Homo sapiens: one gene and its partner. The protein of the gene in region 1 purifies or fractionates together with the protein of each later gene. This does not show direct contact. Each region holds a gene or a part of one and is shown on either strand. Other genes may lie near its edges.

The links. Proteins that work in one complex are often made in the same cells at the same time.
Region 2: the proteins of NAA20 (region 1) and SMAD5 fractionate together in Homo sapiens (co-fractionation; one large-scale study listed by BioGRID). This does not show direct contact.

The regions. Positions count from the first base shown.
Region 1 is NC_000020.11:20,020,250-20,023,902, forward strand, and holds part of NAA20 (N-alpha-acetyltransferase 20), read left to right. Parts: intron 1-2,206; coding exon 2,207-2,231; intron 2,232-3,653. UniProt on the Homo sapiens protein: Catalytic subunit of the NatB complex which catalyzes acetylation of the N-terminal methionine residues of peptides beginning with Met-Asp, Met-Glu, Met-Asn and Met-Gln. Proteins with cell cycle functions are overrepresented in the pool of NatB substrates.
Region 2 is NC_000005.10:136,153,196-136,156,848, reverse strand, and holds part of SMAD5 (mothers against decapentaplegic homolog 5), read right to left. Parts: intron 3,258-3,653; 5' UTR 3,089-3,257; coding exon 2,686-3,088; intron 1-2,685. UniProt on the Homo sapiens protein: Transcriptional regulator that plays a role in various cellular processes including embryonic development, cell differentiation, angiogenesis and tissue homeostasis.

The sequences.
Region 1 (3,653 bases):
GAACTTAGTGTTCAGTTACAAAGGAAAATAGAAGCAGGGAAGGAAAGCTGGAAGTGAGTGGGGATTCAGCTTTAGTTTGGGGGTTCAGGGAGACTGCCCTTGAAGAAAGACCTGGGGAAGTTAGGAATGAGTTACATGAACACTGGGGGCCAGGGGAGCTTCCAGATAGAGGGAACAGTAAGTGAAGACACCCCTGTTTCAAATAGGAGGCAGGCCGCATGGCTGGTACAGAGTGAGCATGGGAGGGTAAGGGGATAACAGCAGAGAGTTAGAAGGGCAGGGCCTGGAGAGGCCATCATAAGACCTGAACTTCTCTGCCAAGTGCACCAAGAAACCCAGGTGGAGGGGCCAGGAAGGCATCTGGGCATGGGCGTCTCAAGATTAGGTCTGAGCTAAAGATGGAAATTTGGGGGTCAGCACAAGTGTAGAAAAAAAGGCTAAGAGTTTGTAAGATGGCGCCTTAGGGCATCAAGTGTTCAAGTAAAGGAGACCGTGTGGCTCAGTGAGGTGAGAGGAGAACCCCATGGTCTCAGAAGCTGAGTGAAGACAGCATTTCAGGCTGTCCCAGGAGTGGGAAGCTGTTCAAGAGGAGCTGATGGCTCAGTGCACATCATATTTGTACATTTCTTCCAGGAAAGAGAAATTGAAGATGCAGATGCAGGAGGGAAAGAGAATTGCAGGAGGAGGGTCCCGAGTACTGAGGGGGTCTCTCGCCCGCACTCCGTGCCTATTGACAGGAGAGCAAGTAGCATATGGGTGCAGATGCCTGTGTGCGTGGGTTCGGTGGGCGGGGGGGGGGGGGGACTTTGGCAAAGACTTCTTCCTGTTTTCTCTTCTTAGTGATGAAATAGGAAGCCCCTGAGATGGCGGGGCTGGAGGTGAGGGTGCGGGTGGGCAGACAAGAGGAGATAAAGCAGTTCAGTCGTCGAAAGGTGTGGTGGAGTGACTCCCTGCACTGTATTAGAGCAGTGATTCTCAAGGAGTGGGCCAGGGTTTGGGGTCCCCAAGATTGTTTCAGGTGTTGTGTGAGGTTAGAGCTATCTTCATGATGTATTAAGAAGGTTTTTCATCTTTTCCACTGTCATTCCCTCACAAGTAGACAGTGGAGCTTCCCAAGGTGTGATCTTTCAGCAGCAAGCATAACAAATGCTTGAGAATCCCGTTGTCTTTTAAGCAGGACGTTGCAGAATTGTTAAAACAATGCCATTGTTGTCACTGGATTTTGTTTTGTTTTGTTTTCGGAAGTATAGTGATTTTTTTGGTAAAGGTATTTGTGTTAACGTGTAATTGATTTATTATTTTTGAGTGAATATTTAAAATTTTTAAATCTCAGTAGATATTACGCGTATAAACAAAAGTTCTTTGGAGTCTTCAGTAACTTTTTAGCGTAAAGGAGTTCTGAAACCAAACAGTTTAAGAACTGCTGGACTACAGAAATATGATATGACTAGCATTGTTATGGGTCTCAAAGGAGAATTTGACTAGAAATCAGAAGAGAACAGTTGAAAAGTAGCTGGTTTTGAACCTGACAAAATAGTGGCTCCATTAATTGACTAGGGAAGTGAGGGGATGGAGATGGGTTTTCAGAATGCAGATTTGGGAATGGTGTGCTGGGATGTGCTGGTGAGCTGCCCACAGCATCGGAGCCAGGTTGGGAGGCATCCACTAAGAACACGTGATTGAACACATAGGAATGGGGATGGTGGGGACAGGGAGGTGGGAGTGTAGAATAGGAGTGGGGAGCAAAAACCGAGTGGTGGGAGTGACCACATTTAGAGGGTGGAATAAAGGAGCAATTGTCAGGGAAGACCCAGACACAGGCGGGGAGGATCCATGGGGTTGGATGCTGCAGCGGGCGAGTTTGACCTTCTGTCTCTGCGAGATACATCCCTAGTTGGTCTCCAGTTCCATTAGCAATTTATTGCCACTTAGAAAACACAAGATGTAGATTTATTAACTTGAATTTTAAAGAAGCAAGTAGCAGTTAAGTGAAAAAATATGTAAACACCTTAATAGTGGCTGTGACAGCTTATTATGGCTATTAGGTAGATTAAATCATCTGCCTCAGCCCTAAAGTTGGCCTTAAAGTTGTTGATGAAACATGTTTTGTTTTCCTTGTGGCATATTACTGTTAGCTTTAGCAGGCTTATTTCAACTGGTTATTGTAAACGCTGCTTACTAGAGACATTTCTCTTGTTTCTTTCAGTAACTTGGATCCACTTACAGAAACTGTATCCTTTTTTACAAAAAAAAAAAAGTTGAATGAAGATTTACTGAGAATAAAGAAAACAGAAATGAAAGGAAAACAGAGGAGTACTGAAAAGTTTAAAAACTTGTAGGTCAGGAAACATCATAAGCAACACTGAAAGCAATTTTAAAAAGTGAAACTGAGAACAAGAGTTGTCTTAGATCTGCTGACAAACTGTTAATATCATGACTTGGTAGAAATCTGTAACATCATAGCTCCCCTGCCAACCTTGCCCCTCAGGAGTCAGCATGGCTGTATTCACCAGAAAGCACAGTGACTTCAGCAAGGTGGCTGCATAGTCTCCAGTGTGAACAAAGTCTGGAGATAAGCAGTCCCAGGCAGGTGATGCTTCCATGAAGACACCAACAGCCAGGCTCTTTGCAGTTTAAGCACTCTACCCCTCCCAGGGTGGCCGTAACCTTGTTCCAGATGTTGCCACAGCAAACAGCATCACAGCCATGTTTCCGGCAGCAGAAACAGCAGAGGGGGAGGTGAGGGTGTTCTTCCCTTTTAAGAGTACCTTTGGGCCTGTACTCCCAGCACTTTGGGGGGCCAAGGCAGGCAGATCACGAGGTCAGGCGTTCAAGACCAGCCTGGCCAACATGGTGAAACCCCGTCCGTCTCTAGTAAAAATACAAGAACTAGCCAGCCGTGGTGGCTCACTCCGTAATCCCAGCTACTTAGGAGGCTGAGGCAGGAGAATCGCTTGAACCAGGACCCGGGAGGCAGAGGTTGCAGTGAGCCGAGGTTGCAGTGAGCCGAGATCGCGCCACTGCACTCCAGCCTGGGCTACATGTAGAGCGAGACTCCGTCTCAAAAAAAAAAAAAAAAGGAGAGTACCTTTGGGAAATGCCACACAGGCCCGCTCTGTCTCATTGACCAGCACCTGTTTCATGCTTCACCTGTCTACTGAATCCTATCTAGAGTCCAGAAATGTGCCCTGCTTTATAAATTGGGACTTGTTACTAAAGTGAAGGCTTTGAGGTAACAATGAACAGTGTCTATTATTGTCCTAATGGAAAAATGGGGCAAAGATGTGAAGATAGGATACTGTGGTTATGCTGCTGTAACAGATAACCCCACATCTCTAGTGGCTTACAACACAAAGTTCGGATTCTGTGTTATGCTCTGTATCTACTGTAGGTGGGTAGGAGGGTTCTGCTAACCGGTAATTTATCAAAAGAGGGCATATAGGAGCTTAATGAACGTGTTAAGAGTTCAGTCTCATCAGTCAAAAGACATGTAAACTAAAACCAAAATGAGATGCCATATTTTATGTATCAGCCAAGATTTTAAAAAATGATAAACCTCAGTGCTGATGATGGTGAGGTGAGAGGAACATTCTCATAAATTGCTAGTGACAATATAAATTGCTATTATCTTTCCAGAAGGCACTTTGGAAATA
Region 2 (3,653 bases), on another chromosome or scaffold:
CATGAAATTTTCCGTTATTTAAAAGTATCAGAGCTATGCCCCAGTCTTTTCTATAGAATGAATCATAGCTGAGAAAAATGTATACAAAAAATAAGACATTTCTATTGGCTGGCTGACTACTAGTCACACTTTGGCTATAGGGGAATACATAAAATTCCTAGACTCCCTCCTAGCAAATAGCAAGCTTGGGAGTTTTTCAGCCTATACTTCTCTATTAAATCCTTTTATCTTCCTTTCTTCATCAGTTCCTTCAGCTATCAGCTTTCCTTGGACTCAGTAAGAAACTGAGAATCATATCATACCAACTGTCTAAAGACACTCTAAAGCTCTTAAGTTGAACTTTCACAGACAGCATAATCACTGCTATCTGCTATCCTTTCTACTAGTCTCCACATCCAATGTTATTTTCAGTCTTTTTACCACACATCTCCACGTGAAACCCAGATAGACTCTAAGGTAACCACTGTGATTCCCACCTCCAGGTATTCAAACCATTGGGTAATTCTCCCTGCTTGAGTATGAGTATGACCTATCACTTCCTTCTAACCAACAGAATATGGCAAAGGTGACAGCGTATGTATGATTACATTCCACAAGAATATAATGTCCTTCTTACCAGAAGACCCTCTCTTCCTTACTGGCTTTGAAGAAGCTGTCATGAATGTGAACTACCTATAAAGAAGGCTATGTGAAAGCAACTAAATCTGTCAACAATCACATGGGCTTGGAAGCAGATCCTTCCCTAATTGAGCTTCTGATAAGACCTTGGCCCTAACCAACACCTTGATTACAGCGCCTTGCAAAGGACCCAGCTAAATGTGACTGGACTCCTCACCCAAAGAAACTGTGAGGTAATAAACATGCATTGTGCTAAGCCACTAAGTTTGTGGCAATCTGTCATGCAGCAATAGATGACTAATGCACTCAGCTAGCAGCTCAGCTTATACCATTCATTATAAAAAAAATTTACTGAGCATCACCTACCAAGTGCCAGACAACAATATACTATTCTAAGCACTAAGGATAGAGTAATGAATGAAATAGAGGAAGACTCTGCTCATGTCAGTCAATAAACAAAATAAATATCTAATATAGAGTCAATTAGTGATGCGGATATTTGAGCAAGGACTGAATGGAATGAGAAAATGTGCCATGGAAAGATCCTGGGGGAGAATAAGTAGACAGCAAGAGTTAAAGCCTGGAAACAGGAGTATGGCAAGTCCAAGGAACAGAGAACTCTGAGGATAGGTCATACAGAGTCTTACAGAAATCTCTTTAAGTGTGACAGCCTTGAAAGTGTTTTCAGTAGGAACTGACATGATTTAGTATGTTTTTAAAAAATCATTCTGGCTGTTGTGTGGAAAACACAATGGGTTAAGGGGAAGAAGAGACGCAGAAAGACCAATTAGGACACTACTTAAGGTGAGTGATGATGATGATGTACTGTACTAAAGTAGTGATGTCACAAATGATGAGAGGTGACATATTTATTAAGACATATTTTGAAGGTGCAGCAAACAGCATTTGCTCATATTTTAAATATAGGATTTAAGTAAGAAGAATAAAAGATGACCTTGCAGTTTAGGGCATTAGCAATTACATGAATGCTGTTGCCATTCACTTCAATAGGGGAAACCAGAGAAAAAAAACTGCGCTTAGACATATTACATTTGGTATGTTTAATAAATAAATATTCAAGTGGAAATGTCAAGTAGGCAACTGGATACACAAATCTAAAACTCAAGGGAGAAGTTGACTTGAGTTCAAAATGTGAGCATCAGCTTATAGACAATCTTAAGACATGTGACAGCATGAAAGCACATAAAGAAATAATATAAATGGAGAAAAGGTCCATGGACTGACTCCTGTGAAAACAGGAGAATACGCCAGCAAAGAGGGGCAAGAACAGTCAGTGAGGTAGGAGAACCAGGATAGCATACTGTCTTAGGGGCCAAACACAGAAAAAGTTTTGAGTAGGATGGAAGGAGATCAACTGTATCAAATGCAGTTGAGCGGACAGTAAGATAAGACTCAAAAATGACCCCTTGACCTATAAAAAGGCAGTCACTAGTGATCTCGACAAGTTAAATGGTAGGAAAGAAAGACTAACTAGAGAAGTCACAAGAAAAAAATGAAACATAAAGATAATAAAAATGGAGAATCCTCTAAAAGGACCAGTGGAAACAGTGCAGTGATTGGGGTTGGGTTATGTGAATGAAGTGAAAAGCAGAATTTTTTTTTAAGTTTTATTTTAGGATGGGTAGTATCATGGCATGCTTGTATGCTATCAGAAATACTCTGGTAGAAAGGGAAAATATAATGCTGGAGAGAAGGATGATAACTGTAGGAACAAAGTTCTTCATTTGACAAAAAGGAATGGGATATAGTACACACTTGGAGCTTAGGCTTTAAATAAAACAGAGACAGGTCATCCACAGGAAAAGGCAGAGTAGATATATGGGTGCTTACAGTGAATAATGAATTAGAGTAAGCCACCTGAGAATTGTATCACCTACATATAAAAAGCTAAACTCAAAATCCAATAGCCCTTCCAAGATTAGAATATTTAAGATGGAAACACAAAGCTAATACAACCTTTTCATTACTAAATCTAGTTACATGCATATCAGGAAGAGAGGTTTTTTGTTTTTGTTTTTCCAAATTCTTCTCAGGAATAAGACCTACCTGGACTCTCCACTCTCTTATAGTGGTATGGGTTGATACAAACTTCTTTTTGCTTAGATCCAAAAGGAAATTCACAAATATCCAACGGCTTTAGCTCATGATGACTCTGCAAATCCGGCCAGCGCCAAACACGACAATATATAACATGGGGTAAGCCTTTTCTGTGAGAAACCTGCAGGCGTCCATCTAAAGATCTGGGAATAGTGACACATTTACTCGGCTGTCCTGGACTGCTCAAGGCTTTCTCCAGTTCCTCCATGGCACCCTTTTTCTTTTTTAGTTTCTTCACCAAAGCATCAACTGCCTTTTCTGCCCATTTCTCCTCCTCATCACCTTGTTTCCAGCCCAACAATCGCTTTACTGCTGGACTAGTAAAAGAAAACAAGCTGGCCATTGACGTCATTTGACACAAATCTTCGGAGACCTTCCTGTAACTCAAAGTCAGTGGCTACCGAAAGAACAGATCACAGGTGAAACGTCATACACAGGTCCTAAGCAGAAGTTCCAATTAAAAAGGGAGGAGTAACATTTATCTTCACAAGTGCCATATGCTTCTTTCATTGGGTCAAGTCCTGAAAGAGAAAGGGGGAAAGGATCCTAGTTTAAATCAATTCAATATATACAAATTTAAATTAATATAATCGAAAGGCATATTTTATTAAATAAGAACAGAAAAGCATTACAAAGTAAACAAAAAATTGATAAATTTTCTCCAAAAGTTCTGTGACCACTCGATTCCTTCCCCATAATATGAACAAGTAAGACACTGGCAATGTCAAATGATAACCAGAGGCAAAACCAGGTTGCTCTACCTCCTATGTATTATCCAAAAATAGCTTCTGGACTCCCTTTGATTAGGCCACTAAACCCTAAAACACTCTTCTAAAATTTGATTCTGAAGTACTTTTCTTCACTGAAATCCATGTTACATGCTATGTCAATTTTGAACGTGATTGTGTCCTGATCTG